Linked DNA regions of Homo sapiens: regions 2, 3 and 4 are each linked to region 1. Evidence: fine-mapped expression QTL. A gene starts in region 1. Each other region holds a variant in brackets. All regions are shown on one strand. Distances are from middle to middle.

Region 1 (8,111 bases):
AATTCAGATCAGGCTCAGAGTAGGGCTTAACACTTTCTTAGACAATTAATTACTAAAATGACTAACAGTGTTTCCCTGAATGAGAACTACCTTATCTGAAAGACTTAGGTGTGTCAAATACATGTGGCCAAGTTACCAAAGGAAAACAACCGCTATTTTATTTGGTTAATTGATTTAGTAATTTCATTGACTCATGAAGGAAAACACTATATAATGAGATAAGAATAAAAGGAAATTACCCCTACATAAGGGACCCAATACTTGCTTTCATCCTTTCTATTCTCTCTCCTCACCAAAGTGAAATATACTTACTAAAAGTTTAAAATATTATTTCTAGGCCCACTAAAATCAGAATCTACAGAGACCGAATCTACCCCAAGTGGGACAGACATGACTTATGGCCTGTCTAAATGCCAAGTGTTCAGGTATGCCAGTAGGACCCTTCTCCCGCCCTAGGGATAAGTCATTATTGGTGTAAATCAATCTCTGTAACACCATTCCTCTTTGCCACTTATTGGCTAAGGAGTGAGCATGATTCATTTCTTGCCATTGGAATTTGTAGGCAAGACTATTGGGGCATATTACATAAGATTTTCCTTCTTAATAAAGACAGAGAGAGAGGAGGAAAATCCTCTCCTCTTTTTGTCTTTAAATGACCAGGTAAAGAGGCAAGGGAAGTTGGGATTGTGGATGGGTTTCTTGGGACAATTCTAGCAGCCATCATTCACCCATGAAGAAAAGTCAAGATTAGCTGAACACAGAAAGCAACATAGAGCCCTGATATTACTGAGCTACTGAACAAACCCTGGACCCACCTACCTTCAAACATCTTCATGTATGAGCAAAGTACATCTGTATTTTTGAAGGGAGTTTTGGCTGAATATCCTGTTACTTGCAGCCAAAAGCATCCTAACCAATATAACAGGTGATTTTGTTGCAGAACCATCCCTGAGAAGCCCTGATGAACAGCAGTGATGAGGAACCTCTGTCTTACAAACTTTAGTTTCTATCTTTCTAGCTTCTTGTTACAGTGCAAAATCATCATAGACAATGAATGATCAGAACACTGCCTTTGTATTGAAATTTCTCAAAAATGTCCAGAAAATAACATTTTATAAAGTTAAAAATTAGTGCCAAGGTTTTCACTGCCATTCTTTTAGTCAACAGAAATTATTTGGATTGTAAGATTATGTATTTCCCCTCCTCTACCCTGAAGTTAAATTGTAATATTTGAATACTGAATGAAGAAAAGTTGGACTTATAAACGTTTGGTTGTTTTCCAAATTTCCACTCATGAAACAAAACAACAACAATAAAATATCACTACTATTGCTGCCTGGAGTTTCATTTCTGCTTTTTCTACTTGAAGAAATTCAAAATCTAACTCAAATGTCACCTTCTCAGTATTTCCTAACTCCAACATTGACAAACTGTCTCCCTCGTTTTCCTCTCTGATGATTCATTCATTCATTCAACAAACAAGAGCTATTAAGCTCTTGTTACGTCCCAGTCCTTGAGCTGAGGATTCAGAAGTGAACGGTCTTAAATAGTTCCTATATTCAGATCTTGTAATCTAGTTACAGGATGATAAAGGATGATAAATGATTCCTAAGCAATCACAATGAAATATGGTTAAGTTTCAACTTTAGACACATAACAACCCCATCCCTTAACAAGTTTCATTTCCTTTTTTTTCTTTTCTGAGATGGAGTCTTGCTCTGTCACCTAGGCTGGAGTGCAGTGGCACAATCTTGGCTCACTGCAACCTGTGCCTCCTGGGTTCAAGCGATTCTTCAGCCTCAGCCTCCGGAATAGCTGGAATTACGGGCGTGCACCACCATGCCCAGCTAATTTTTATATTTTTAGTAGAGATGGGGTTTTACCATGTTGGCTAGGCTGGTCTCGAACTCCTGACCTCAGGTGATATGCCCACCTCGGCCTCACAAAGCCTTAACAAGTTTCTCTGGTGTGATAGGCACAAGAGTAACAAAGATGACTAAGATGCAGTCTGCCCTTTAAGGGATGGTCAGAGACTGATATGTGTTTACCAAAATCGTTTACTCTTCTGCCTGGGTCCATAGTACATTTCCAGTCTCCCTTGCAGGTCAGTGTGGCATGTGACTGAAGTCTGGTCAATGGCATGTGGACATAAATAGTATGTGATTTCCAGTCCTCACCCATAAGAAACAATCCTCATGCAATCCTCTAGTAGCTTTTCTTTTTCTGTCCGTTGCCTGGAAACTAAGGACTCCAAGGTCTTAGGGGATAGCAAAGCCATAATATAAAAGGAGTTTGGGTTCCTGAATAATTGAGTAGAAGGCCAACAGCTGAACACGTGAATGGACTTGACATGAACGAGAAATAAGCCTGAACTATGTTTAGTTACTGAGATGTTTTACTTTATCTCTTACAGCAGCTACTGCTGTCTTAAGGTTATATTCTTCAGTCAATAGCATACGATGATTCTTAGCACCTCGAGGATGCTAACCCAGTCCACAAAGGCAACACCCCCTCTGGTTAATCTGAGAACTAAAATAAAAGCAAGCAAGAAAACCCACGCCAACACCTTACAACAGTAAACAGACACGCGCCCGTCACCGGGTGTACAAACAGAAAAGGCTGGGCCCCTCGCTCGCGTCTCCGGTCCAGCAGGCCTACAGGGTACCCGCCGCTGGCGCTGGGTTTATTTTTACCCTTAGTGTCTCTGGGGCCTCTCACCTGGCAGTCTCCGGCGAAGTCGACCAGGCTCCGTCTGAACGATTAGGAAAGGGGCTGTGGGGGAGGCGGCGGAGCCCGGTCTAGCCACCGCGCTCTGGGGTTCCCGATTCGCGCATCTTCCCAGGCTGAGCCGGGAGGCTGCGTTGACTGCAGATAAACGGTCTCAGGGCGCGGCACCGCGTGTAGTCGGCCCCGCCTTTCGCACGAACCCGCTGGGCGACACCGCGCAGGGAGGTCCGACCCGTCGGCGCCGGTACAGGCTCCGGAGTAAGCATGGGTTGGTCCGGGGCCCGCAGCGGCAGCCCCGTGTGCCCTCCGCCGGGTTTCAGGTCCGGCGGCGCGGGTGCAGAGCCGCGTGCGATGCCTGGTGCGCGTGGCTTCCCCCGGAAAGGTGGCGCCAGGCCGACCATGGGCCCACGTCCCGGGGCCTCGGAGCGGCACCGCGCGGTCTTTCAGCTGCTTATCCTCCCTGGGCGGGTCCGCAGGCTTCTGGGGCCAGGACCAGCGAGCTCCCGGGAAAGCTTCCCGGAAAGCTTACCCAGAGAGCGCGGACCCAGGCGCCGAGTCTTCCCGGAGATGACGAGACACCGCGAGAGGAGCACAGCGCAGGCTCCTCGGGACTCCGCGGCGCAGGCCGGGCAGCCCGTTACTTGTTTTATCGTTCCCGAAACCAACCTCTAAGTTGTCTATCAGTCCTCCACCTTTTAGCTGTACCTCTTAGAAGTGTCTTCTCAGCTGCGGTGGGAAGATAGGATTCTTTCTTAAGGTGACCAATTAAATGGCCGGATAAAAGACTTGTTCTGCCCCCCTTTATCGCTTAACACCTGCCCTTCTTGTTGTATTTTAGATTTTTAACCCTTCTATCAGCAGTGTGATTCTATTTCATTTAATTCTCATTTCATGTTTGTGTCTTCCTTTTCTCTGTATTTCCTCTTGTGTGTGTTAAGACGCGCGCACCCCTTACCTGTTTTTCACTCCTGTAAGCAAGTGCCAATCTTAATCACCGCTTTTCAAGCAAGGGAGATTATCCTCAAATTTCTCCACCAGTCAGAAACCATTCATTCTTGTCTCTCAGGTCCTCTTTTGTGATGAACCTATTGGATAGGTTCCATCCAATACCCTTCTTCAGATCATCTGAAATGATTATTTTCCTAAACGGAACTCTTCCTCTCCTAAAGCTTGTAAAAATTTCTAGTGACATTCAGCTTCCTCTTACCACAGGAATGACATATATTTTTCCTTTTAGTCATATGTACTTCATTAATATATCACCTGATTTGATTAACATGACTTTGGAGAACATTGAATTTTTTGGCTAGATTTTACTTCGTTTTTATTGCTGATAGTGTTTATAAAAATGTTTTATAGTTTATGGTCGGCTGTGAGAAAGACTAACTCAGATCATTTGTTAATGTTGGAGCCCATTTTGTAGAATTCGTTGTGCATTTATTTAAAATTTATTTGTTCATAGCTATACATATATTATACATGTATACCTGCTCACAGCATAAAGTATTTCATGACATACTTGTAAGAGTCAGTGTTCTATGAATTCACTAGAGAAGTTACAGCATTTTGATTATGATACACGAAAAGAAACCCAAGTCATTTAGCTTAACTCCTTAATTTCATAAACCAGAAAACTAAAATCCAAGATAGATTGGGTGACTTGGTCTAGATCACAAACCAAAGTTAGCCATAATTCGGTAGTGTAGTGCCCGGTCCAAAACCTCATAGATAATCTTATAATCAATGGACTCTTTCTGAATGCTAGTCAAAATGTCCTTTTGTGTGAATTTTAATGTACCGTCATCAACTGCATGATATTCTTCCCCATACACAAAGTGTTATCTTTTTGTTGTCCATTTCAGAATTTTCCATGTTAATATTAAAGTTCTAGGAAAAAAGGCTAAGAATCACTGCACATTTATTGAGTATCTCAGTGTGCATCATACCATTTGGTCATTTGAGGTTGCAACAAGTAAAAAACAAACATAAAACCCTTAAATTAAAATAAAAACAAAAAACTTTGCCCTGACAATGTTACAGAATTAACATCCATAAATTTACTTTTCTTGAAAAATTTATTTTCTTTAATTTCGTTTGTTTCCTGTTACATAATTTATATTTAAATTTACATTTATTTATCCAGAAACTATGTCCAAATTTTATGTCCTCTTTTCTGTTATCCTGGAGTTTGGTGAAGAAATCTGTACTTAATTTAGAAAAGAAATCCCTCTAACTGACAATATTGTTAGCTAACTATATATTTCTTAGGCCCATGTCAAATATCATTGCTTATTTTAATAAAGATTGTTTAGTTAGACTAAGAAAATAGTAAATAATAAGGGATGGCATCCGTTAAGTATAAACACTGGATTATTTTTCATAACATAACAGGTCAACAATATCGTTTTGAGGCTGAACTCCTTTACTCCTTTTACTGTAAGCTATTGAAGCCAAACTCCTTCCTACCTTTGTTCATTTATGATGGTGTAAAATTTTAAAATTAGGATCTACATACAGAACAATGCAGAATTATATAAAAATATTTGAATATTGAAAAATGAAGTGGAAATTATTATTATTATTTAGGTACAGGGTCTTGCTCTGTCACCCTGGAGTGCAGTGGCATGATTACAGCTCACTGCAGCCTCAAACTCTTGGGCTCAAGTAATCCTCCTGCCTTAGCCTCTGTTAACCATGCTGGTCCTGAACTCCTGGCCGCAAGTGATCCTCCTGCCTTGGCCTCCCAAAGTGCAGGAATTATAGGCATGAGCTACCATGCCTAGTCCTGAAATTACTATCTTCTTCCTTAACCCCCATCTCCCCCACAAAAAAACAAAAACTTCCTTTTTTCTTCATATTTACATTTTAATTGTATATGCTGCAATGGCCTATTTGTATCACCCCAGAGTCATGTGTTGACATCCTAACCTGCAATATGATACATTAGGAGGTGGGGCCTTTGGGAGGTAATCAGGTCATAAGGGTAGTGCCCTCATGAACAGGATTAGTGTCCTTATAAAAAGACACATGAGCGCTCGCTTTTTTTCTCTGCTCTTGCTATGTGAGGATACAGCAAGAAGAGGACCATCTGCAAACCAGGAAGTGGGCCCTAACCAGAAACTATATCTGCTGGCACCTTTATCTTGCACTTCCTAGCCTCCAGACTGAAAAATAAATGTTTGTTGTCTATGACACTCCATCTATGGTAATTTGTTATAGCAGCCCAAAGTGACTAAGACAGATGCTAACAAATCGAGATTTATTTTAAAAACTATTCTCCTGCTATGAGTTCAATATTTTTATTTCTTTACAATGATTTCAGAAGAGATTACAAAGAGATTAATATACTTAAAGAATCAGACTCTTGCAAACAGTGACATCATTAAAAAGAGCTTATTTTCATTAACATGTGATTAACAGGAAGGAGATGATTGGTGAGTTTTCTTCGTAACCAGGTTCACTGTGGATAGGAAGGGCCTGCCTTCCTTCCCACCATGGAGATCCTAAAATCACAAGCTCCAGCCTCCATCAATGATGACAGGGTTACCAGTTACATAAGCAGACTGCAGTGATAAACACAAGGAGACAGAACAATTAACCAGGTTTGATACAGGCTGTATTTTGAAATTTTCCTGTGACTAGGATAACTAAACAATTTACCCTTGTCCTAACAGGAAACCTCACTTAAACACTTAATTCAGGGAAATCCAAATTAACATTTGGTTGATTTAGAACTGCTGAGTGTCCTGTGATCTGGAACTAAATGGCCTCTGGCTGGTGTCTAAGCACCTGTCACTGTTAGGTATTTGGTCTCAGAATCCCCAAATTAAGGAACAGTGATGTATAGCCATTCCCCAAATTAGGATATAGGCTAAAAGCACATTTTCATTTTGAAACTCAGAACTATTCAAAACTAGCTAAGTTTTATGCCACTAATAAACTTTTGAACATAAGTGTATCAGTCATAAAATGGTCATATTAATGACCAGTTTTTTAAAAAAGACAGCATATATTTAGTTGATCAATTATAAGTGGATAATTGTAGGAGCTGAAGCACACTAAATGTGTTTTAAAAATTTACATGAATGATAATAACTATAATCCATTAAGCTATAAAAATATTCTATATTAGTTTCAGATATCCAAATCTTTATAAAACTAAGGAATTTAAAAAATAATTACTGGTTTATTCCCATAAATTTTTCATTTTCTAAATAAGGCTGAAGTGATCTTTTTGGTAGAAGTTTAAAAATCTTTTAACTTAAAATGGATAATAAAGACTCAAACAGTCTAAATTCATCTGAAGCCTGAAACAATGGAAGAGGAAGTAAGGATATCATAATGAATAGAGAAATTTTAAGAGTTCAATAGATAAAAGCTGATAATATACAGTAGGTGAACTAGGGAGTTATTAGTCACTTCACCAAAGAAATACCTCCAACTCCCCCAAGTTCTTTTAAAAGACAAGCTCTGTTACACATATGAACTCCTCTGGAAACCTCTAAAAAGCCAAAGGTACTTTTGTAGCACATTTCAAGCCACAACACTTCCAAATATCTTGTAACCTAAGCTCTGGCTAACTAAGGGTAATTTAGCTTATCAGCAGTACCCAAATCAAATGAGCTATTCTGAAGATACGGATTCAGAGAAATCACAAAGGCTCATGTGCTTCTTCATTAAACATTTGTCTATTAATTTCCCCAGCTATTAACAATTGTTGTTAATAGTTGGGAGAAGTTCTGAGAAGAAACTGCGCTGTCACGGAAACATTTCAATCCCTGTATTTGTCACATTCACCAACTATCTGGTGTGCACCAAGTTACTGGGAAGAGGAGCTATCAGTTGTTCCCTCCTCGCTCCCGCCTAGTCCCCTTTCCTTCCCTCTTCTCACACATTACAGTTCCTTGTTCCTGTAGTATTCAGAGACATAAAACAGAGGAGGACCTTCTTGTGCTCTATACCTTATAAGCATCATTTTTGCTTTCATCTTAAGCCATTTAAAAGTAAACAATAGTTATTAAGGAAAAAACTGTTAAACAGATGCAAAGTGGAAGAGATTAAATTAGGAATTTCCATACACGATGATGAACAAGTAAGAATTTTTAAAAATATTTATTTATTTTGAGACGGAGTCTCACTCTGTCACCCAGGCTGGAGTGCAGTGGCGCAATCCCGGCTCACTGCAACCTCCGCCTCCCTGGTTCAAGCGATTCTCCTGCCTCAGCCTCCCGAGTAGCTGGGACTACAGGCGCCCGCCACCACGCTCAGCTATTTTCTGTTTTTAGTAGAGACGAGGTTTCACCATGTTGGTCAGGCTGGTCTCAAACTCCTGAACTCAGGTGATCCGCCTGCCTCGACCTCCCAAAGTGCTGGGATTACAGGCA
Region 2 (8,111 bases), 140 kb after region 1:
GTACTAGTCAGCCATAAAATAGAACGAAATCCAGTCATTTGCAACAACATGAATGGAACTAGAAATCATTAAGTTATGTGAAACAAGTCAGGCAGAGAAAGACAAACATCACAAGTTCTTACTTATTTGTGGGATCTAAAAATCAAAACAATTGAACTCATGGACATAGAGAGTAGAAGGCTGGTTACCAAAGGCTGGAAAAAGTAGTAGGGGGCTGGGGAAGAGGTAGGGATGGTTAACAGGTACAAAAAATGATAGAATGAATAATACCTCTATTTGATAGTATAACAGGGTGACTATAGTCAATAATTACTTAATTGTACATTTTAAAATTACTTAAACAGTATAATTAGATTGTTTGTAACTCAAAGAATAAATGCTTGAGGGGATGGATACCCCATTCTCCTTGATGTACTTATTTTACATTGCATGCCTGTATCAGAACATCTCACTTATCCCATAAATATATACACCTACTATGTAACTACAATAATTAAAAATGTAAAAAATCTTTAGATTGGGAAAACAAACTATAATGTCTACTGATGGATGTCCTACATACTGGAAATGTAGTGAAAATGGTGATGGTGATGTAGAATGAGGAACTGGTGCTTGTGAAGCAGGTTCACTGTGCACTGCTTACCACTTCAGAATCCTGGGCTGCACTTTTACTATGTACCTGAGTCTTGTGAGATAAAAAAACTCTCTCACACACAAATTGCATAGTTTTGTTACTTATAGATGGGCAGAAAGGGACAACAGAAGCCTACGAGTTATGATGAGCCAGTCCCCGGGGGCTCAGGAAATCTGCTCAGAGCAGATGGAGTCTCCTCTGAGAGTGCCTTATTGCTCCCAGGGTAAAAAACCCAGGGTGGGCTGCTTTCCAGGGTCCCTTGTACCACAGCTGAGGGACCCTGGAAACCAGCCCACCCTCAATTTTTCACCGTGGGAACAATAAGACACGCTGGCTGAAGCGATGAAGGATATACTGTTTCTAGGGGCAACAGGGACAGAGTCTGTGCTCTTCTGGCCACCTCCTCCTTATCTCAGGATGTTGCATGTCCAGCACATTCTAGTTAATTCTGCAGAACTACAAGTAAGAAATGGGGGAGAACTGGGTTGGTTCAACACCACCCATGGAACTGTCCTGCAGTAATGTCATGTATGGAAAATTATACGGGAATATGAAAAATCAGTAGAAAGAAAGAAAAAAAGATATTATTAGCACATAGAATAAACTCTAGACAGGTCAAAATCAAATAGAAAATTAGTAAATTGGAAGATAATATTTAGAAATGGGCTCAGAATGTAGCTGAGATAAACAAAAAGTGATTTAAAAATATGAAGGATTCATTAAAAGAAATGAAGGATAGCTGCAAAGACTGCAACATACATACTTATAGACACTCTATGAAACCCTACAAGTTCCAGGAGATGCAAATAAAGGAAATAAAGAAGCAATATTCAAAGAGATCATTTCTGAGGAATTTTCAAAGTTTGAGAAAGATGTGACTTCTTAGATTGAAAGTGTACCCCAAAAAGCATGTAGGACCGTTAAAGGTAACTCCATACCTAGTCACAAATTTGTGAAACTAGAGAACATGAAGAATAAAGAGAAAAGTCTTAAAATCTTCCAGAAAGAAAAAGAGAAAAGATTACCTAAAAGGCCTGACAATGAGAATGTGAGCAGACTTCTCACTACTAATAGTATGTGCCAGAAGATATTTGTTAATTATCTTCAAATTGCTGCGGTAAAATTACTGTCGACTAGAATTTTATATCTAGCTAACCTATCACAAGAGTGAGGGTAAAATATAGACGTTCACAGACATAGAAATAAGAGAACTTAACTAAAGCATATTCCGTAAAGAGAGGAGGAACGAAATTAAAAAAAATGATAAACACAGGAAGTGGCAAAATATGTTGATGAATTTTACTAACTTAAAAAGAAGATTGAGGGAGGCTGGCCAGGATTGCCAACTAGAAGCAGCTAGTGTGCTCTGCTCTCAGAAAGAGAAATAGAAGGGGCAAGTAAATACAGCACCTTCAATTGAAACATCCAGGTACACACATTGGGACTCATCAGGAAAACAGCTAAACCCATTGGGAACAGAGAGAAGCAAGGCAGGATTACTGCCCACCTGAGAGTGACAGGGAGCCAGGGCAGCCTCCCTCTTTCAGGGAAGTGGTGAGTGAGTGAGTGACCCCAGGGACCCATGCTTCTCCCATGGATCTTTGCAACCCTTGGGTCAAGAGAGCTCCTTGTGAACCTCTCCACCAGGGACTTCAGTCTGACACACAGAGCTACGTGAAGTCTTGGCAGAGCAGCTGCTCAGGTACATATGGAACCTGGGGAGACTTAGATACCTGGGCATCCAAGCAAAAGTGGTTGCAAGTCCAGCAAATCAGAAGGTTAGACCCCTATACATACCCATAAGAAAAGGGATGAATCCAGGGGCCTGAGAAGTGACAGTTTGCAGGCCCTGCTTCTACAGCACTTGGCAGGACAAGACCCACTGGCTTGGATCCTATTTCTCTTCACTGGCCAGAATCTATTGACTGAGGTCTGCAACCACCCCCACCAGTGTTTTCCAGGAGACATCAGTTCCAAACCTCCCTGGAATGGAGCTTCCAGAGGGAGGGGCAGGCCACAATCTTTGCTGTTTTGCAGCCTTAGCCATTGTTGCCTTCAGGCTTTGGAGAGCTCAAAGTGACTGGGGGCTGAAGCAGACCCCTAGTACAGCACAGCTGCCCTATGAAAAAGTGGCCAGGCTGCTTTTATGCAGTAGGTCCCTGATCCTGTTCTTCCTCACTGGGTGGGACCTCCTGACCAGGGTCTCCTGCCATCTCTGCCAGTGTGTTTGGGCTGGAAACCCATCCATACCTCCCTGGGATGGAGCTTCCAGAGAAAGGGGCAGGCTGACATCTTTGCTGCTTTGCAGACTTCACTGTTGATACCTTCAGGTAATAATAGAAAATCCAAGGTGACTAGGGACTGGAGCGGAACCCCAGCATACTGCAGCAGCCATATGGGAAAATGGCCAGACTGTTTTCCGTACATGTCCTGGTGCTTACTTCTCTTCACTGGGCAGAGCTGCTTGACCTGAGACACCACCACAGCCACCCTGCCATTGCCTGACCACTTCAATCAGAGGCAGCCCAGCATTTCTGTAAGGAGAAAATCCTAAAGTCAACCCACAGCCCCTCTGCCACTGCAGTTGCAGTGGTACTGCCCTAATAGCCTACAGGCTGGGGAAAGAATAAAGGCCTAGTCACTCACTCCCTGGTACCTCCAGCACACCACAGCCACCATATGGAGAGGAGTCCAGCCCCTCTGCCCTAGGAATCTTCCCCCTACACTCTTCACCAGTCAGGGCCTCCACCTCATAACTGCAGAAACATCCCACCCATGGTGGAGTATACCCACTAGTAGTGGCTTGGAGTTTTCTTGTGAAGAGGCTTCCAGAGGCATCCCACAGCCATTCTGCCACTGCCAAAGCAGCAGTTCTATCCCTGCTGCCCTTGGTCTGGGGAAGAGACAAAGAGCCTGAGGACTATACCTCAGGTTACAGAACACCACATCCACCATATGGGGAGACCAGTATCTCCTCCCAGTGAGCCCTTGACCCCCTACTCCCCAACAACAGAGTTCTAAGCTCATACCACTAGTGCTGCTGTCCCACCCCACTGGCTGAACACTCCCAGTAACAGCAGCTCTGCATTTCTTGGAGGTGGGGCCCTCAGAGGCAACCCAAAGTCCCCCTGCCATGGCCTCTGCAGTGGTACTACCCCTTCTACCCTTGGACTAACAAAGGAGCAAAAGCCCTAAGTACCTTATCCATACTTCAACAAGCAGCAGTTGACCCAAGGAGAGGAGGCCAGTTCATCTTGCATGAGTCCCACCCACCCCACTGCTCATCACTAAGCAGGGAACCCCCAGCTTGGGTCCACAGCACAGACCCCTAACTTGGGCTGATTACACTGAGAGATAGCTGACCTGTATCTCTCTAGAGCAAAGCCCCCAGGAGACAAGTAAAAGACCCTCATCACAACCACTGTGAAGGTCCTGTCCTCTGCTGCCTCCAAGTTGGGGAGGAAACATTAACCTTGAGATTACCCCAGAACTGTGTTGGGCAGCCTGGGAATGCCAAGCTGTGATCTACAGCCAGCACTGAAGTGGGAGAGGAGCTCACACTTTCAGAGCATAGAGAGGCAGCATGGCTACAGCTGTGAGGAAATATAGGAGAGCCACAAGACTGAGCAAGAGACTCTTACTGACCATTATGCCTAAGTGCCACCCACTGGATCACATCCCAAAACTTCAACACCTAAAGTATCTCACCAACTTTGTGAAACCAAAGACAAGAAGCTACAAATAATTACCCTGCACAAAGCCTTGGTCCTGTGAAAACATCCAGAAAAGAAGTCAAGAAGTCTATTGATTTTACTCAATCTTCACTGCAGTTAAAGGAACACCCACATGCAGAGATGAGAAGGAACCAACACAAGAACTCTGGTAACTCAAAAGGCCAGTGTCTTATGTCCTCCAAATGACTGCACTAGTTCTCAAAGAAGGGTTCTTAACCAACTCATTGGCTGAAATGGCAGA[C/A]ATAGATGGATAGGAATGAAGATCATTGAAATTCAGGAGAACAGCAAAAGCCAATCCAAGGAAACTAAGAATCACCATAAAATGATACCTGTGCTGACAGATGAAATAGCCAGTATAAGAAAGTATCTAACTGGTCTGATAGAGCTGAAAGAGACACTACAATAATTTCATAATGCAATCACAAGTATTAACAGCAGAATAGATGAAGCTGAGAACAGGATCCTGGAACTTGAAGACTAGCTCTCTGAAGTAAGATAGTGAGATGAAAATAAACAAGAATGAAGAGGAATGAACAAAAACTTTCAGAAATGTGGGATTATATAAAGAGGCCAAATCTACAAATCACTGGTATCCTTGACAGGGATGATGAGACAGCAAACAACTTGGAAAATATATTTCAGGATATCATCCATGTAAACTTCCCCAACCTCACTAAAGGGGCCAAAAATAAAATTCAGGAAACACAGAGAACCCCTGCAGGATTCTACACCAGAAGGTCATCCCCAAGACACATAATCATCAGATTTTTCAAAGTTGAAGTGAAAGAATGTTAAAGGCAGCTACAGAGAAAGGGCAGTTCACCTACAAAGGAAACCACATCAGACTAACAGTTGACCTCTCAGTGGAAACCTTACAAGACAGAAGAGATTGGGGGCCTATATTCAACATTCTTAAAGAAAAAAATGTTCAACCAAGAATGTCATATTCAGCCAAACTAAGCTTTCTCGGCGAAGGAGAAATAAGATCCTTTTCAGATGAGCAAGTGCTGAGGGAGTTCATTACCATAGAGTTTTGTATTGTTACTAGCCAATACAAAAACACACTTAAGTACACAGACCAGTGACACTATAAAGCAACCACACAAACAAACCAGCATAATAACCAGCTAACAACACAATTACAATATCAAATCTATACATATTAATACTAACCTTGAATGTAAATGGGCTAAATGCCCCATTTAAAAGGCAAAAAATAGCAATGTGGATAAAAAAGCGAGACCTGATAGTATGCTATCTTCAAGAGATCCATCTCACATGCAGTTACACCCATAGGCTCAAAATAAAGGGATGAAGGAAAATCTACTGAGCAAATGGAAGTCTGAAAAAAGCAGGGGCTGCAATCCTGATTTTAGACAAAACAGACTTTAAACCATTAAAGATAAACATTGACAAAGAAGGGCATTATATTAATATAATGGTAAAGAGTTAAGTTCAACAAGAATACCTAACTATCCTAAAAATATATCCTGTGTTCCCAACACAGGAGCACCAAGATTCATACAGCAAGTTCTTAGAGACCTCCAAAAAGACATAGTCTTGCACACAATAAAAGCGGAAGACTTCAGCACTCCACTGACAGTATTAGACCAATCATTGAGGCAGAAATTTAACGAAGATTTTCAAGAACTAAACTCAGCACTGGATCAATGGACCTGATAGACACCTACAGAACTCTCCACCCCAAAACAACAGAATATACCTTCTTATTGCTACATGGCACATACACTAAAATCAACTACATAAACAGACATAAAAGAATTCTCAGCAAATACAAATGGACTGAAATCATAACAACCACTCAGTTGGACTGCAGTACATTAAGATTAGAAATCCAGAGTAAGAAAATTACTCAAAACCACAAAATTACATGGAAATTGAATAACCTGCTCCTGAATGACTTTTGGGTTAATCATGAAATTAAAACAGAAATCAAAAAGTTATTTGAAACTAATAAGACCCACAATACAACATACCAGAATCTCTAGGACACAGCTAAGGTAATGTTAAGAGGGAAATTTATTGCACTAAATGCCCACAACAGAAAGTAAGAAAGATAGCAAATTAACAACCTAACATCACATTGAAAAGAACTAGCAAAGCAAGAGCAAACCAACTACAAAGCTAGCAGAAGGCAAGAAATAACCAAAATTGGAGCTGAAATAACCAATTGAAGGCAAGAAATAACCAAAATTGGAAACTGAGCAGAAAACCATTCAAAAGATCAACAAATCCAGGAGTTGGTTTTTTGGAAAAAAGAAAAAAGATAAATAGGCCACTATTTATCTTATTATTGTAATAAGACTAATAAAGAAGAAAAGAGAGAGGATCCAGATAAACACAATTGGAAATGACAAAGGGAATATTAACACTGACTCCACATAAATACAAATGACCATCAGAGACTGCTACAAACACGTTTATGCACACAAACTAGAAAACCCAGAGGAGAAGGATAAATTCCTGGGCACATACACTCTCTCAAGACTGAACTAGAAGAAATTAAAACCCTGAACAGACCAATGATGATATTCAAATTGAATCAGTAATAAATAGGCTACCAACCATAAAAAACCCAGGACCAGATGAATTCACAGCCAAATTCTACCAGATGTACAAAGAAGAGCTGGTACCGTTCCTACTGAAATTATTCCAAAAAATTGAGGGGAGGGACTCCTCAATTCATTCTATGAGGCCAGCATCATCCTGATACCAAAACCTGTCAAAGACACAACAAAAAATAAAACTTCAGACCAATATCCTTGACAAATATTGTTTGTCAAAAAAATACTGGCAAATCAAATGCAGAAGCACATCAAAAAGCTAATTCACCATGTCCAAGTAGGCTCTATCCCTGGGATGCAATGTTGGTTCAACATATGCAAATCACCAAACGTGGTTCATCACATAAACAGAACTAAAGACAAAAATCAAATGATTATCTCAATAGATGCAGAAAAGGCTTTCTATAAAATTCAATATCTCTTCATGTTAAAAACCCTCAATAAATTAGGCAGTGGAGGAACAGACCTCAACATAATAAAAGCCATTTATGACAAACCCACAGCCAAAATCATAGTGAATGAGCAAAAGCTGGAAGCATTCCCTTTGAAAACCTGCACTAGACAAGGATGCTCTCTTACTTTTCCTATTTAACATAGTATTGGAAGTCCTGGCCAGAACAATCAGCAAGAGAAAGAAATAAAGGACATCCATATAGGAAGAGAGGAAGTCAAATTACCATTGTTTGCAGACTACATGATTTTATACCTAGAAAACCCAATAGTCTTGGCCCAAAAGCTTATTAAGATAATAAACAACTTCAGCAAAGTTTCAGGATACAAAATCAATGTACCAAAATCACTAACAGTCCTATACATCAGCAGCAGCCAAGTGAAGAGCCAAGTCAGGAACACAATCCCATTCACAATAGCCACAAAAGGAATAAATAACCTGGGAATACAGCTATCCCGAAAGGTGAAAGATGTCTGCAATGAGAAGTACAAAACAATTCTGAAAGAAATCAGAGATGACACAAACAAATGAAAAAACATTCCATGTTCATAAATCAGAAGAATCAGTATAATTAAAATGACCATACCACCCAATTTACAGATTCAATGTTAATTGTACCAAACTTTTAAACACATTCTTCATAGAACTAGAAAAAATTATTTTAAAATTCATATGGAACCAAAAAGGAGCCCAAATAGCCAAGACAA
Region 3 (8,111 bases), 22 kb after region 1:
TAGCTAGAATTTTAAACTATCTAGTCTTACCCCTTCTCCATTGTTATTATTTTTATCATTAATTAGAACAATGTGACATACATTGTGCTTGTCATCTGACTTAGTCCCTTTAAGTAATATCAAACAAAATAACGTTCTTAAAAAAATGACAGCTGTTTTCAATACTCTCAAAATACTGCTCTTCTGTAATGAGACTATATATCATTTCTGAGTTTGAGTTACTAAACTCCAAATAATAAGAGAAAAATTGGTTGTTTCAACACTTTTCCTACTAAGAGTATGCTAGTGCTTTCATAAATGTCAAACCATACCCTGCCATTATACTTAAGGTACTGTTATACTTAAGGTGCCGATATTAGCTTAAGTGGGGTACATAATGTAACAGAAATTGATATAAATCAGGAGAACAAGGTAACCTGTCTTATAACTCTGGAGTCATATATCTAAACTGACACAATTTCAGAAAGCTGTGTAACCCTGTTTGCCCTCTGTAGCGAATATATCATGATGCAGAGAAACTGAAGTAGAGAAGTTTCTCAGAGTCAATGGTTATCAGTGATGTCATGTACTAAATATGAGGTATTCATTCCTTCATCTGCCTGGGGTCAGGAGTAGGGACCTATTTATTTATTTGTTTATTTTTATAACTTAAGACAACAGAAGCACAAAAGTAAAAAAATAAAAAAGCAGAGCAGAAGTAAACAACCATGGCATCAGTCCACATAATTCAATATGTCAAGAGTTAGTAGGCAAACAACAAAGATAGTAACTTATAACTTACTAAGGCAGCTGCTTGGCCAATCCCCTGAGCAGCGGCCGTCAGGATGATGACTTTCCCATCAAGTCGACCCATAATGGAACCTGTGGTTTAATCTAAAGACATGTGTGTTTAATGGGTTATACTGTAGAACATGATCTTGAGCAGGCAGTAACATCTAGAATGAATAGTTCAGTGTGCTCTTTTAAGAATAATTTAGTGAGCTCCTTCAGGAACTTGAAGACAGCACCTCTGTGCAAGTAGTCCCATCATCTGAATTCTCCTAGAATGCTTACTCTGCATACCTAGCTTTGTATATCAAACACATTTACCATAACCCACTGAAGTAATGACTGGTGACAGACATTGGCCATTTTTTTTTTTTTTTTTTTTTTTTATGAGATGGAGTTTCACTCTTGTCACCCAGGCTGGAGTGTAATGGAGTGATCTCGGCTCACTGCAACCTCCGCCTTTTAGGTTCAAGCAATTCTCCTGCCGCAGCCTCCTGAGTAGCTGGGATTACAGGTGCCTGCCACCACGCCCAGCCAATTTCTGTATTTTTTGTAGAGACGGGCTTTCACCATGTTGGCCAGACTGGTCTCAAACTCCTGACCTCAGGCAATCCACCTGCCTCAGCCTTCCAAAGTGCTGAGATTACAGGCCTGAGCCACTGTGCCCAGCCCAGATATTGCACTTTAACCTACCTTATCCTTCCTTCAGTACCTGGAGAGGACAGCCTCTGGTGCTGAGTTTCCTCACTACCACCATCACTCTCTCCATGACCCCTGCACACATTGCTATGACATTATTTGTGTCCTTACTACTCAGGGCTGCTTCTTGATTTCTCTTCCATAAACTTTTGTTGAGGTTTGCACTATCAATTGCTTATGATTTTTTTTCTCTTGAAAAGATTTCATAGTTGGTCTCAGATATTCATCGAAAAAAAAAAGGATGGAAAAATCAAATCACATCCAATACTCCCATTTTACAGATGAGGAAACTGCTGAAACATGCCCAATGTCATAGAGCCAGTCAATGGGAAAGCCAGAACTAAACTTAGACTTCCAGACTCTTGCTATGTGAACAGTCCAGCCCACAATGCTGCCGATCCTCTTATAAAGTTTAAGCATGCAGTAGTAACACATTAACAGGCATAATCAGTAATTTCTAAATGATTGAGAAACACTGACACCGGGGCTCATGTGCATGAGATATTTCACCAGTGCTTGGATTATAGATCACAAAGTGAGAGAAAGAGCTAGTAGTGAGGCTGGGGGTGGAGAAGAGCCAAATGACCATCAAATGAGGCTGTCTTCAAGGACACAGGCTCCAAGTCTTGCTGGGCTCTGTCATTAATGTGTGCCTCTGACCTCATACGAACTCACAAAGTGGCTGCTTTGTCCAAGGCATCATATCCACATTTCAGGCAAAAAGAAAGGGAGGAGCAAAAGCCAAAAGGCTTTCAGAGAGGTCTCACCTTTCTATTTAAGAAGGAAACCTTCTCAGAAATTCCCACCTGCAGTTCATTCACCAGATCTATGCTACTTGGCCACTCCTAGCTGCAAAGAGGTTGGAAGTTGAGACTTTTGTTTCCAGCTTTGATAAAGTGAAGAATAGGAGAAAGTGAGTTGGATGGTGTTGATGAACCAACTTACAGTACATGCAAACTAGCCTACACAATCACTCTGTTCCATTATCTGCCTGATTTTGTACAGGTTGATAGCCTTGCCTAAAGGGCTTATATTACCTAGTCCTTTCTCTTTGAACTTATTTCAGTTCTCTCTTTAGCCAAACTTTTTTTTTTTTATACCCAATATGCTCTTCCATTTCAAACCTCCACACTTGGTCCAAGGTCCACATGGTGAAGGGCAAGTTACTCCTATAGGCAACAGCCACTGAAGGATTTATGGAAAGGGTGTGAAATGATCAGATTCGTATTTTGGAAGGACTGCTGTGGAGAACATACCTGGGCAGGAGCATGGGGTGCCATTAGGAGGCTGCTAGGGTTATCTAGTGGGGGCGCTGGTGAAATAGCAGGGCTGGAGAAAATAGCAGGGATGGAGAGATAGGTGGATTGGAGAAGTGTTTCAGAGATGAGATAGGTAGGACCTGATCACCAACGTGGCTAATTTCAAAGAAATGTTATTTGCCCAGTGTTTTGCAGCTATGAATTCAAACCTAGGCCTTCTTGTTGCAGGTCCAAGGGAAGATCTCATGGCATTGTCTCATGGTACTCAAAGCCCTGCGGGCCTCTCTAAATCCCCACTGTGGCACCAGGAGCCTGTGCCTCGCAGACCGCTGACCCCAGGAAGTAATGGACAATGAGGCGCAGCTGCTGCTGCCTCTCTGGGTTTGTGCTGAGGCCACCTTCTCGGGGCCGTTACAAGCCAGTGCCTGAGCATGCATGCTTACTAAGGCAGACTCATTTCTGGGAGACATAGACCTCCTCCCCAACGGATGACTGGCTAGAGAAGCTCCTTATTACCTTGCTGAAGTTCTCTTAGACTGCACAGCTGTCTGGGATGCTTCCACTCAACCTGGTTTCCTTCTTTTCCTCCCTCGCGGGTGGACTTGCATCGAGGTCTGATGGCTCTCACAGCCTTACCTAGTTCTCTCCTCATTCTCTCTCACAACAGCATTTCCCCTAATAAAATCCATGCATATTTAATTCTATCTTGGAGTCTGCTTCTTGGAGGAGCAGACTAACACAATTATGTAAGAACTGGCTCCAGGGATCAGCTTATAATCACTGACTTCCTCTGAGTTTGTCCACATTTTTTAGGCGATGGGGAAGCTTGGCTTTAACAGTGCCTGACCTACTTTGATGCAATGAATTTTTGCTTTTTTACTTCTTACACAAAAGATAAACATGGAATGTTTATCATTTCAACATGGAATGACAGTTTCTAAAGTATAACTTTAGAAAGATATACTTTATCCTCCTTGAATCCTAAGCATGGTGCACAAAAGCTATTTTACAACACTGTCATTAGTGATATTGGGTGTATGGCCCTGTAAAGCCTCCAGTCAAAGGTTTTGCTAGGAATCTTTGCCAACCGAAGAAGCACTTCCAGAACAAATGCCGAAGCACAGAGCAGCCTTTCTA[T/C]GCACTCTGAAAACCTCCTCTTAGCTGGCCTTCCTGTCTTTCTGGGACCAGATTTTGGGGTCAAAGCCTTAACATTTGATAAACTGTAATCTCAAACTAAAACAGATTTCTTTGAGAAAATGAGAGCAAACACGGCCTGAAATGGTAAAACAAGGCACCTCTCAATATATCCAATGTGAAAACCATACATGTTGGCTTCCTTAGTCCAAAAGTTAGAATCAAAATGTTGATTTTTGATTAGCAGAGACACAAACAGCATATTCAGGAAGCCATTGTTTTCAAGAGCCAGGAAGAAAACTCTTCACTTAGGATACCGTAAGAATCCTTTTTTCTTGGGCTACTTTATAAAACATACATACCACAGAGTTTCAGGCTCTTTAAAAACCCATCTTTACACTGATCTAACTGCTCAGATTAATTTTGAAACAGGCAACGTGCAGAAAAAAACAACATCTAAAAATTAAACCTCCCCTCTTTCCGTTCTAAAGTTTCATTTCAAAAGTATTAGGAAATCTTACTTTAAGCAGCGAGCTGATGGCGTTCTCCAGAACTCGGTTTGAGCAACAAACTTGAGACAACCTTTGTCTGGAAGCAAGTCAAGCGCTTAATAATGCATGCTGGGATTTGTAGTTTCCCTGCTTTCAGAGTTTAGTGGCTCCATCCATACACTTTATAAATGTATGTGCTGCCATCTAGTGGAATTCAGGTAGAACTATGAATTCCAAGTGGAAGGTGAAAAGTGGAAAAGCACCTTAGAGCTTACTTAGGATGCGGAAATCATTTCCTTCACTTCAGTCTCTCCACTTCTCTGTTTTGTTTATGCCTACTATATGCGGTGCCAGGGTAGACGAGATTGGCTGAGCTGGAAACTGCGTGTGGAAGATAGCAGAGCAACAAAATAGAGGGAACCCAGGTCACTGAAAATTCTGGAGCCTTCCTGTCACTTGGCCTGGATTGTTTTAAGGGAGAGAAATAAAAAAAAAAATCCTTTTTGTTTGAGATACAGTTGTGATTTTTATTTTTTCATGCTCAGAATATTCTAACACTAATGCACATTTAGTGGCAGAATGCCAGGAGCCTTTTACTACACTGGGAATGGGGTTGGGGAGAACGTGAAACTTGGATGACAGGGTGGAGGCTTAAAAGGGAACATGTTAACAGCGAAAAACCCCAGTTTGGCTGAAGAGAACAGAGATATAAGGTCAAAAAGAAAGGACTAGATCTCATGAGCCCTCTAGGTTAGGATAGCAACATGTGCTTTATCTGTAGTGCCAGTGAGCAGAGTGATTGTGTAGGCTACTTGTACATGTACTGTATAAATTGGTTTCCTCAGCACCCATCCAACTCACTTTCCCCTTTTTTCACTTGTCAAAGCTGGAAAACAAAAGTCTCTACTTCATAGCCTTGTTTGCTGCTAGGGGTGGCCAAGCAGCATAGATGTTGCCAATGAAATGCAGGTGGGAATTTCTGAGGAGGGCCTCCTTCTTAAATAGAAAAGTAAGCCCTTCTGAAAGGCTTTTAGCTTTTGCTCCTCCCTTTCTTTTTGCCTGGAATGAAGATAGGATGCCGTGGGACAGAGCAGCCATTTAGTGAGTTCATCTGAGGCCAGAGGCACACATTAACGACAGGGACCAGCAAGAGAAGGAGCCTGCGGCCCTGATGACAGCCTCAAGGCAACAACTCCTCTGGACTTCTTATGTGAGGACAATAAACTTTAGTGTTTTTCACGTTTTTTGTTACATGGAGCTAAGTGATTTCTAACAGTCACAGGGGATAAGAACAAAGACTGTGGCGTCAGTAAGACTAGAGCAAGTCCCATATCTCTCTCTCACTAGCTAAGTGAGTAAATCACTTAAATCTCTGAACCTCTTATGTTTCTCATCTGTAAAATGAAGGTAAAATAGCACCTACCTCAGGGATGTGGTGAGGAGGAACGACTAAGCCTGTGAATCCATCAGCACAATGTTTGCCACACAGGTGCTTAATACATGTTAGTGATTCTTATGATGAAGACATTGTTGGAGAAATTTAATTATAATGGATGGTAAAAGTTGCGCTTTTTAATGTTCTTTTAAAAACTGGACTTAGTTTCTGCATGTGTCTATATGAGGTCTATGGTAAAATTGTCCCTCCTTGTTCATTGTTTCAGCAACTTCTAATGCTGGCTCTAACAATCTGTAATCACATCTAGCTTTGTTCCTGCTTTACTAATAATGCCCTTTGACTTTTGAGGCTTTTGGAACAGACTTTATGAGAGTTCTCTAATCAAAGCCAACTCCAATGCTTCTTGATGTAGCTTTCTTCAGCATCCCTCTGTAATCTTCAGCAACAATGCTTACTTGATAACAGCCTAAGTCACATGGTATTGCAAATACTTGCTTACCCATTAGTATTCTCAGCAGACTAAATTTCTTCAAGGGTGGGGACTATGTTTTACACCTTTACATTGTGATTAGCTCGTATTAAAAGAGTATTAGTTACTTGTTTTCTTATCTACAATATGAGTTCCACATTGGTAGTGCCTTTCAGTGCCTAAAACAGTAATTGGCAGATAGTAGATGCTCATTAAATATTTGCTGAGTGAATGGCAGTTTCTTAATAAGTTTCCTGAATATAATTCTGCCAGGCTCTCAAGACAATGTTTGTGATAATTAATTTTAGGTGTCAACTTGACTGGATTTACGGATCCCCAGAGAGCTGGTAAGCATTATTTCTGGGACATCTCTGAGTGTTTCTGGAAGAGATCGGCATTGGAATCAGTGAACTGGGTAAGGATCTACTTCACCCAATGTGGGCAGGCACTATCCAATTGGCTGAGGGCCCAGATAAAACAAAAAGGCAGAGAAAAGGTGAATTCTCTCTCTTCCGGAACTGGGACATCCATCTTCTCCTGCCCTTGGATACCTGAACTCCGACCAGATTCTCAGGCCTTCAGACTTGGACTGAGCCACGCTCCTAGTTTCCCTGGCTCTCCAGCTTGCAGACAGCCTATGGTGGGACTTCTCAGCCTCCCTAATTGTGTAAACCAATTCCCCTAATAAACATCCTCTCTCTCTCTCTCTGCATATATATATATATATATTTTTTTTTTTTTCCTCAAGCTTCAGTGGGGTTACATCCCAATAAGCCCATTGTAAATTGAAAACATTGTCAGTTGAAAATGTATTTAATATACCTAATTCACTGAACATAGAGCTTAGCCGAGCCTACTTAAATGTGCTCAGAACACTTGTTAGCCTACAGTTGGATAAAATCATTTAATACAAAGCCTGTTTTATAACAAGGTGTTGACTGACTCATGGGATTTATTGAACAGAGTACACTGAACAGTGTCAGTTGTTTACTCGTGATCCCGTGGCTGACTGAGAGCTGTGTCTTGCCGCCACTGCCCATGATCACAGTAGAGTATTGCTATCTTATGAAGAGATCAGAATTCAAAGTAAAGTTTTCACTGAATGCGTATCGCTCTCACACCATCCCTAAAGTTGAAAAATCTCAAGTTGAACCATGACAAGTTGGTGACCATCTGTGTATATTCTATTGGTTCTGTCTCTCTGGAAAATCCTAAGACAGATTTTGGTAACAGGAGAGGTTCTAGAGGAACAAAATTTTAAGGATGAGTTTCCTGAGTTGGTTTTGGGGTTCCTGGAATTGGCTCTTAGTCTGATTAGATTTGAAAATGCTAAAGGCTCTACTCTTTGAGATGGGGTCACACTCTTGAACAGGTTGGAGTGCAGTGGCACCATCATAGCTGACTGTAGCCTTGAATACCTGGGCTCAGGCCATCCTCCTGCCTCAGCCCTCCAAATTGTTTTTTTTTGGTAGAGATGAGGTCTCAGTATGTAGCCTAGGCTGGTCTCAAACTCCTGGTCTCAAGTGCTCCTCCTGCCTCAGTTTCCCAAAGTGTTGAGATTACAGGGATGAGTCACTGCGCCCAGCCTGGCTCTCCTTTTAATAGTACAGAGAGCACTGATTGTCCAAGAAATGAACTGTTCATAGAGGTATGCAAAATGTCTGCATTGGATACTCCTAATCAACCACTTCTTAGAGGTGAGGAACTTAAGTGACTCTATATATAATACTTTTTTTTTTTTTTCCGAGACAGAGTCTTGCTCTGTCGCCCAGGCTGGAGTGCAGTGGCATGATCTCGGCTCACTGCAACCTCTGCCTCCTGGGTTCAAGCGATTCTTCTGCCTCAGCCTCTCGAATAGCTGGGATTACAGGCACACACCACCATGCCTGGCTAAT
Region 4 (8,111 bases), 330 kb after region 1:
ATGTAGCCAGATCTTTCTGACTCAGTTTGTCATATATTAAGCAAGCTTGCTAAATTTTATACATCTCTATATTGGATTCTTTTGTAAGTCAGTCATGTTATCATTCATGTGTAGGTTTGATGGTCAATAAAATTAAATTGGATTGAAATTAATTTCTGATATAGGCCACATCTATAAATTTTGCCTCTCAATATAATGCAAGAGGTGTAATAGTAGCTGGACATCGGCTCATCCCTCTTTCTTCGAGCCTTACTGTTCTTTGACCCAAGACTGCACATTTAAAAGAGAGGGGAGATGAGTTTTTAACGCTGCTGTGGAGATGTATTAAAATCCCATTTCAGTTAAGGTTGCAGATTTAGCAAATAAAAATTAGTTACATTTGAAATGTTTATCTGAAATTTAAATTTAATTGGACATCTTTTATCTACAATGTTAATTTGAGTTCCTCCAACTTGAATCTCTGTGAGGTTTGCTCTTGTTCCTCTTGAATTCTCTTTTCTGTTACTGGTATTTTTTTTCAGATCAGGTCTTCAATGAGATATTCCTTTTTATTTGAGGTTTCAAGCTTCAATATCTTGAGTTCATCATCAGCCAGCATCTCCTACCCTGATTTCTTATTTACAGCTTTATTCTCTGGCTCATACTATGACTTTAAGTTTCTCATGTAATGCATTTACTGTTACATTGGACTTTGACAATCATCCACAATGTGGAAATCTAAAGCAGAAAATGGGAAGGCAGAACAGGAAAGAGTAAGGCACATTGGCAGGAATTAAGTCTAGAGCTTCTTACAAGGGTAAAAGTTTTGTTGGATAAAATGGGATCAGATATTAGGACTAGCAAATAAAGGTCAGGCAGTTAAGAAACCTGGGAACACTGGAAAAACTGAGAGGTGGATGATGCAGAAGATGAGCTGGTCATGCACAATGGCAGAGGGATTCTCCTGGAGCAGAGGTTTGGATAATCAGAGATGGATCATGATTTGTCAGGACTTTCAGGAACTGCTTTGTCCAGAAACAGCCCCTCTTAGTCTTAAAGTTACAACATCCCCTAAAAAGACAAAGTGCTCTGCTAGAATACTGCACCAACAATTTAGAGAAGAGCTTTCCATTCCCACCCACAGACATGTATTTGGCTAAATATGGCTCTTGCTAATGAAGAGCCTGAAAACATATCTGAAGAAATATCTACTGAAGTTGCATTATGATATGATATGTAGACCGTAATTTGGTTTGATACACAACCACCTGCAAGCCCATCCAAGACAAAAAGAAGCTCCAGAGAAAACTTAATGTAGCACGGCCTCACCTGTAGGAGATGCCTTAAAATGAATGCATGACCAGCACAATAGTGAGAATACAGCATTTGTATTCTCATTCTTACCACTATGTCTTTGTGTGTTTTACACACACACACATACACACATGCTCCACTTTTATCCATAAATATAAACACACACACACGCTCCACTTTTATCCATAAATATAAATCTTAAATACAAATTTAAATTTGAATTGTCCTGAATCTCCTCATTTACTGCTGACCAATTTCCGTATTAATCTAGTTTCCACTTTGGTAAATGACTTTGTCCTCAAATTTGAATTCTCATTCTGGCTTTTCTGGATAGGCATATACATCTGCTTTCTCTGATTTTAGATTCAGTTTCTTCCCCAAAGTTTCCAAATACTGGATATTCATAAATCAAATTGTATAGATAATTTAGGACTATCATCTATAACAAGAAATATCATAAAATTAGAGTGTTGTAAGTCAAATTGCCAGAGGGTCAGCTACAATCCACCACTCCATAGGAACCCTGAGAATAAGAATTCCATAGTTGTCAGTAAATAAGATTACAATAACAACAAGAGATTATTTTCAAAAATCATGAAATCACCAAAATTCTATCTGCCAACCAAACACACTGCTGGTTCAATAATCTTTGTTGATAGGTCTTTAATTTCCTTACATGAGCATTCTGCAAAATGCTTTAAGAATAACTAAGTGTTATACAATGAACTTTGGGAGTCAGCCAGTAGAAAATTAAATAGAATTTAGTGTGACTAAGTCACTGTGACGGAATTTAATGCTTTAAATTTTTGTGAATTATGAGGAAATTTCACAGGGGGAACATGATGGAATACAAGTACTCATAGCCCTGTTAACTGCAGCTAGAGCAGGTGGAAAGTGTCAAGTTGGGATCCCAGTGGTACAGAACAAATTGTGAATCATGGCTTCTTCCTGTTAAACCTTGAATCACCTTTAGGATAAAGTCCAAAATTCCTAACATGATCTTTAATGTCAGTCATAATGTGGTCCCCTGTATTTCTTTGTATCATTTTCTCTCGCCACTTACTCCGCAACCATGCTGATCTATTGATATACTTGCCATTTCCTGAATTTGAGGTATTCTTCTTTAATCTTGGTTTTCATATAATCTATTTCTCTGATAAAACACCATCCACCACTCTACTCAACACCTAGTTAACTTTCCAGATTCAGTTTCTTTGTGCTGCCTCTGTTCTTATCCCTGGATTAAGAATTATCTCACAATATGATGGTTGCTCTCTTGCTTGCATATCTTCTATATTTGTTTTTGAGTGTCTTTTGAAAGAGAGTGCCTCTTATGCTTCATTGTAAATCTAGGGCATAGGAAATTTCCCAGCTGACAGCAGTCATTTAAAATATACTTTTTGAAATAATGAGGCAAGCAAACATAGGCAGACTCAGCTGCTGCAGCTTGGAGGATGTCTAGTTGATAGAAAGACCACGGAATTCCAAGGGTACACAAAAGTAATTCAAACATAATGGCTCCAGTGGACAGCCTCTGATTTTTCTTTGTATAATCTTAAAAAAAAGCTCTTAAGCAGCACTTTATCTTATATTTTACACATGCGCGCGCGCGCGCGCACACACACACACACACACACACACACACACACACACGCACACACACCCTTCTTCTCTCTACAACCTTTTTGTCTCCTGTAAGTAGTTAGGGAGAGGAGAACACCTGACTGTGTGAAATATGTGTGGGTGGAAATACAAATTTCTAACTGTCCCTCTGTAGGTATTTAGGTTCCATTTTTCCACTCTGCTATTAACAGTTGCCTTTCATGTCTCTATTTTCCAGCTTACCAAATTTGGGTGACATATTTTTTCTGGTATGTGGTCCTCTCCCATTCTCTTTGTGCTTGTGGATTTTTAAAAAATAATTCCTTCATTATTTGTGGGAAACAATAGAAAAAATGTGAATTTATTTCACCAAGTTTAAATGGATCTTTTCTGCTTCAATATTTTACTGATTTTTACTTTGACAAACATAGCTTTGCCCTCATATTTAAGAAGTTTTGAGTGGCTGTCAATAAATTCTGCAACTGGTTGCCAGGGATGACAATATCATGTGTGGTATGCAGAAGCTAGCTTGCAAAAGCTGATG[A/G]TAATTAAATTGTTAATTTTTCTCAAGCTTTGTGAGCCAGTTGTATACACAGCCATTATTAAAATTTATATTACATAGCCTTATTATTAAACGTATTTAAAGCAAAGTTAAGATAGCCTTAAATCTCATCACTTCTTAATTATTTTACTATTTTCTATGTTTTTGAGGATATTTACATATATTACATCTATAAAGTAAAAATACCAAATAATAGTGTATTATCGTGTATTTCTGCAAAGTGTTATCACATTGTTGGCTTATAAATTGGCCATAATGAGAGTATTAATGCCACAGGAATCTGCAAATGCTAAAAATCAAGCTATTTTTTATTCAGAAATCTAGTTGTTAGCAGTATGCCATTGTTATGTATCCTCCAAAGTTAAGAAGTCAAAGCACTCCTAATCTGCATCCATCACCTTTTATTTAGATATTTCCCATAGTCTTGAGATTTCTGTCTCAATTTCCTTTATTTTCTTCTTCCTTCTATTTCATTCCCTGTTTTCCTCAGTCCTACCTTTATTCTATCTTCATGCTCTTCCTTTTCTTCCCTCCTTTCTTCAGAAGCTAACTCCATGTAATAGATTTAGCCACTCATTGGCCAAGGTATGGCTGTGTTTGAAATGCTGTTCCCTGGTGCCATAAAGAAATAGCACTTGAACATAAATTTAATTTCCTCAGCAAGGCCATTTGTATACTTTCTGCAGAAAGGGTATATGCACCAGCAGTTTTGCCATGAGAGTACACTGAACAAAGGAGACAGGCTCATTTATAACCTGATGCATCCACCCTACTGCTGTGTCCAGTTTCCATTGGCTGGAATAGGACCTCACATTCTGTATTTGTCCCGATTGGCTAGTAACTTAGAACTTTTTAAAAGAGGCAAAGGCGGAGGAGAACAAAGGAAGGAGGAAGTAACTTGTGGAATGCTGAGAAAGGTAAAAACACCTTCAAATAAGGAAGAGGACCAGGCTATGACCTAATGCTTGCTTGAACGAGTATAAGCATGCCAGGGCAAATATTTAGGCTAACTTGTGGGAGCTAAGAACATAAAGTACATTGATTTCTTTATTACGGCTAGCAGATATTTAAGAATGTTAGCACAGGTCTTTGAAAAAATTTTGCTTCTAAGAGAGGTTACTATTTATTCCTAATTAGATGAGGAGGAAAGTCTTTGAAGAGGAATCTCTACTTTACTTTTTACAGCTGGAAATGGGCAGTTTTCCTGGAACCAGAGCATCCCCAAGTGTTCCTCTACTGCTGCTTCCAACTTTTAGAACCAAGGAAGTTCACCATAACCTTTGTACACTCTGCCTTGGATGTCATGGTTTTATTCTTCAAGGTTTCTCAGTGTGTTTGTGCCAGTTTTCATATACTCTGGATTCTCACCCCTCCTCACTGGCTCATGTTGCTTGGGTCTGAACCTTCTCCCATTAAAACTCAGAAAAAAATGAATGAGCATTTCATATATTCTTAGAAAAATTCTGCTTCAGTTGCAGGACAGGATGGAAATAATGCTACATGTCTTTTAAAAGAGCTTTCCTCTGCCAAGTGGCACCTGATTAATTTACAACTTTCATTTAATAAAACAACTGGATTGTTGTTCCACATGATTTGTCCCAAAGCTTTATCTGTTGTTGATGTAATTAATTTCTTACCAGTTCTTTCCCCACTTCCCATTTCCAGACAAAAATATCTACTACAACTAACAATGACTAAAGTACCTTCCAAGTTTCAGGGTTTCTATTCCCATTAATCTCACTGATATCCTTATTACTTTGTTTATGAATTATTTAAAAGTCTATATATGTTACAGAATTGAAATTCAAGATGAGATTTGGGTGGGGACACAGCCAAACCATATCAGTCATCTTTCTTTACTCTATACATATTCCCCCCGAACACTTACTTAATAATTTATAATAAAGCAAGTACACAAATAATTCAAAAAGTGAGTTAATTTTTTTTTTTTTGTAAAATCCAAAGCAAGTAAACAGGAACCACATTTGATGTTTAAAAAAAATGCATGAGATTAAAATAACTCCTTTTCAGAAACAGAAATGGAATCTCCAAAAGTAAAAGACTGTTTCTATAGATGAAGGAACTAATATCTAGAGATAATAAATGCCTTTTGAAGGTTGTACAGCAGATCTAAGGAATGAACCCACAATTTGGGTTTGATGTTTGTTTAATTGTAATATTAATCTACTTTACTAGCACCATTAATTTATTTGCAGGATCTTAAATGTCAAGCTAAAATTAAAAATATCTTTTTTCTTTTTATATTTTGTCTTTAAAAGTATTTTTAATTTACTGCTAAAAAGAGAGAATGGCATTGATTCTTCATCTGCATAGAAAACAGCTCACTCCCTTCTAGCAGATTTATTTTGAATTATATAAACACCAAAAAAAAAATCCTCACATACGCTCTGCATTTTTATAGCTTCTTTTTAAGCAAACTCTCTCTTCTTGGAAGATCCCCTCCCTTCTTCAAGATATTTCTGCTCCTCCCACTACCTCAAACGTAACTGCTATTGTTGTCCTTGTTGCATCCGCATCACCCTGTGCCTCTATTAAAAGCACTTTACACCTCATAATATAATTTAATACATGTATGTTCCCCTAATAAGATCTAAGTTCCTCTAGGGGAGGAACATATCTTAGGCATCTTTGTAGAAACAGAATCAGCCACAGGATCTGGCACACAGTAGGAGCTCAACAAAAGAATGTTGAAGTCATGAATGTGATAGTAATAGATACTAAATTGTTCTCAATCAATAAATTTTTATTTGGGAAAATAGAGCATTTGGAAAGAATATTTCTTAGGATTTTTTTCACCTGCAGGTAACGTAAAACTGAAAAAAAAAAGGTTTAAATTTAAATTAAAACGTAGAAATGAATTTGTTCCCTTGGCTGAAAATTCCAAATGTGAGGCAGCTCTCAGGAGTAATTTGAGGGTGCGAGCCTCAAGCCTTGGCAGCTTCCACATGGTGTTGAGCCTGTGAGTGCACAGAAGTCAAGAATTGAGGTTTGGGAACCTCCGCCTAGATTTCAGAGGATTTATGGAAACACCTGGATGCTCAGGCAGAAGTTTGCTGTAGGGGTGGGGTCCTCAGGGGGAGAACCTCTGCTAGGGCAGTGCTGAAGGGAAATGTGGGGTCAGAGCCCCCACACAGAGTCTCTAGTGGGGCACTGCCTAGTGGAGCTGTGAGAAGAGGGCCACCATCCTCCAGACCCCAGAATGATAGATCCACTGACAGCTTGCACAATGCACCTGGAAAAGCTGCAGGCACTCAATGCCAGCCTGTGAAAGCAGCTGGAAGGGAGGCAGTACCCTGCAAAGCCACAGGGGTGGAGCTGCCCAAGACCATGAGAACTCACATCTTGCATCAGCGTGACCTGGGTGTGAGACATGGAGTAAAAGGAGATCATTTTGGAGCTTGAAGATTTGACTGCCCTTCTGGATTTTGGGCTTGCATGGGGTCTGTAGCCTCTTTGTTTTGGCCAATTTCTCCCATTTAGAATGGCTGTATTTACCCAATGCCTGTACACCCATTGTACCTAGGAAGTAACTAACTTGTTTTTGATTTTACAGGCTCATAGGCAGAAGGGACTTGCCTTGTGTCAGACGATATTTTGGACTGTGGACTTTTGGGTTAATGCTGCAATGAGTTAAGACTTTGGGGGGCTGTTGGGAAGGCATGATTTGTCTTGAAATGTGAGGACATGAGATTTGGGAGGGGCCAGGGGATAGAATAATATGGTTTGGCTGTGTCCCCACCCAAATCTCATCTTGAATTTCTATGTGTTGTGGGAAGGACTTGGTGGGAGGTAATTGAATCATGGGGGCAAGTCTTTCCTATGCTGTTCTGATGATAGTGAATAAGTCTTATGAGATCTTGCTGGTGGAAGGGTTTATGGGGTGCCAGTTTAGTCAGTCACCCCTGTGTAGGACACCTCTGGAACACCATAGGGGGCACCTGAGGAGAAACATCTCATTATTGCCATTGTGCCCCCAGGCCAGTGAGCATGACCTGCTCTGTGGCTTTACACAGAATGCTCTGGGCGGAAACACTCCCTTGAAGCATTGGAATGTGACCAGACATCCTATCCTAGCTCCCACCAGCTGCAGCCTGGTAAGTTAAAGATTATCATAGTGGTTAGACATATGCTTTGAGCTTAAAGGAAATTCACATAACCGCCAGTGCTATACATGTTTCCAATGACGCATGCTCCCCCACCTTCACCGTTTCACCCCGTACCATCTGCTTCTTAGATCAAAAAGATTGTACTCAATAAATTTTCAGGAAACCAGTGTTCTGGGCCTTCTGCAGCCTTCACTCTAGCAGATGGCCCCCTGGACCTGCTTTTACTCTTAACTTGTCTTTTCTCATTCCTTTGTCACTGCCGGACTTTGGGTACCCATGGCTGGGGGTTGGGACTGATCTCCCCAACAGGTCTGATGGTTTAAAAACAGAAATATCCCCGCACAAGCTCTCTCTTTGCCTGCCATCATCCATGTAAGATGTGACTTGCTTCTCCTTGCCTACCATCATGATTGTGAGGCCTTCCCAGCCATGTGGAACTGTGAGTCTAATTAAACCTCTTTCTTTTATAAATTGCTCAGTCTCCAGTACATCTTTATCAGCAGCGTGAAAACCGACTAATACAATGA

Alleles and levels. Positions count from the first base shown, and alleles are read on the strand shown. Sizes are in standard deviations (SD) of each study's normalised expression. Not every link is listed here.
With allele C in place of T in region 3, the expression in aorta of the gene that starts at base 3,296 in region 1 is lower (small effect, 0.38 SD a copy in GTEx).
For the expression in transverse colon of the gene that starts at base 3,296 in region 1, allele G in region 4 goes with a higher level than allele A (small effect, 0.32 SD a copy in GTEx).

What was found.
Region 2: its variant is fine-mapped to the expression of SLC9B2 in lung (TOPMed, PIP 0.99).
Region 3: its variant is fine-mapped to the expression of SLC9B2 in aorta (GTEx, PIP above 0.99). The same link has a PIP of 0.9 or more in atrial appendage, esophagus muscle, tibial artery and tibial nerve.
Region 4: its variant is fine-mapped to the expression of SLC9B2 in transverse colon (GTEx, PIP 0.91).

The regions. Positions count from the first base shown.
Region 1 is chr4:103,073,466-103,081,576 of GRCh38, forward strand. SLC9B2 (solute carrier family 9 member B2) reads right to left here and starts at 3,296. Exons shown (of 12, transcript NM_178833.7): 1 at 2,719-3,296. BDH2 (3-hydroxybutyrate dehydrogenase 2) reads right to left here. Exons shown (of 10, transcript NM_020139.4): 10 at 4,127-6,290. The coding sequence ends at 6,237. RefSeq lists a silencer at 2,956-3,065 and an enhancer at 3,176-3,295.
Region 2 is chr4:103,215,082-103,223,192 of GRCh38, forward strand. No RefSeq gene overlaps it. Among named protein-coding and RNA genes, the nearest start is that of CENPE, 21 kb to the left of the region's middle. The variant C/A (reference allele first, on the strand shown) is at 4,610.
Region 3 is chr4:103,095,402-103,103,512 of GRCh38, forward strand. BDH2 (3-hydroxybutyrate dehydrogenase 2) reads right to left here and starts at 4,433. Exons shown (of 10, transcript NM_020139.4): 1 at 4,382-4,433; 2 at 782-873. The coding sequence starts at 853. The variant T/C (reference allele first, on the strand shown) is at 3,864.
Region 4 is chr4:103,408,421-103,416,531 of GRCh38, forward strand. No RefSeq gene overlaps it. Among named protein-coding and RNA genes, the nearest start is that of LINC02428, 13 kb to the right of the region's middle. The variant A/G (reference allele first, on the strand shown) is at 3,440.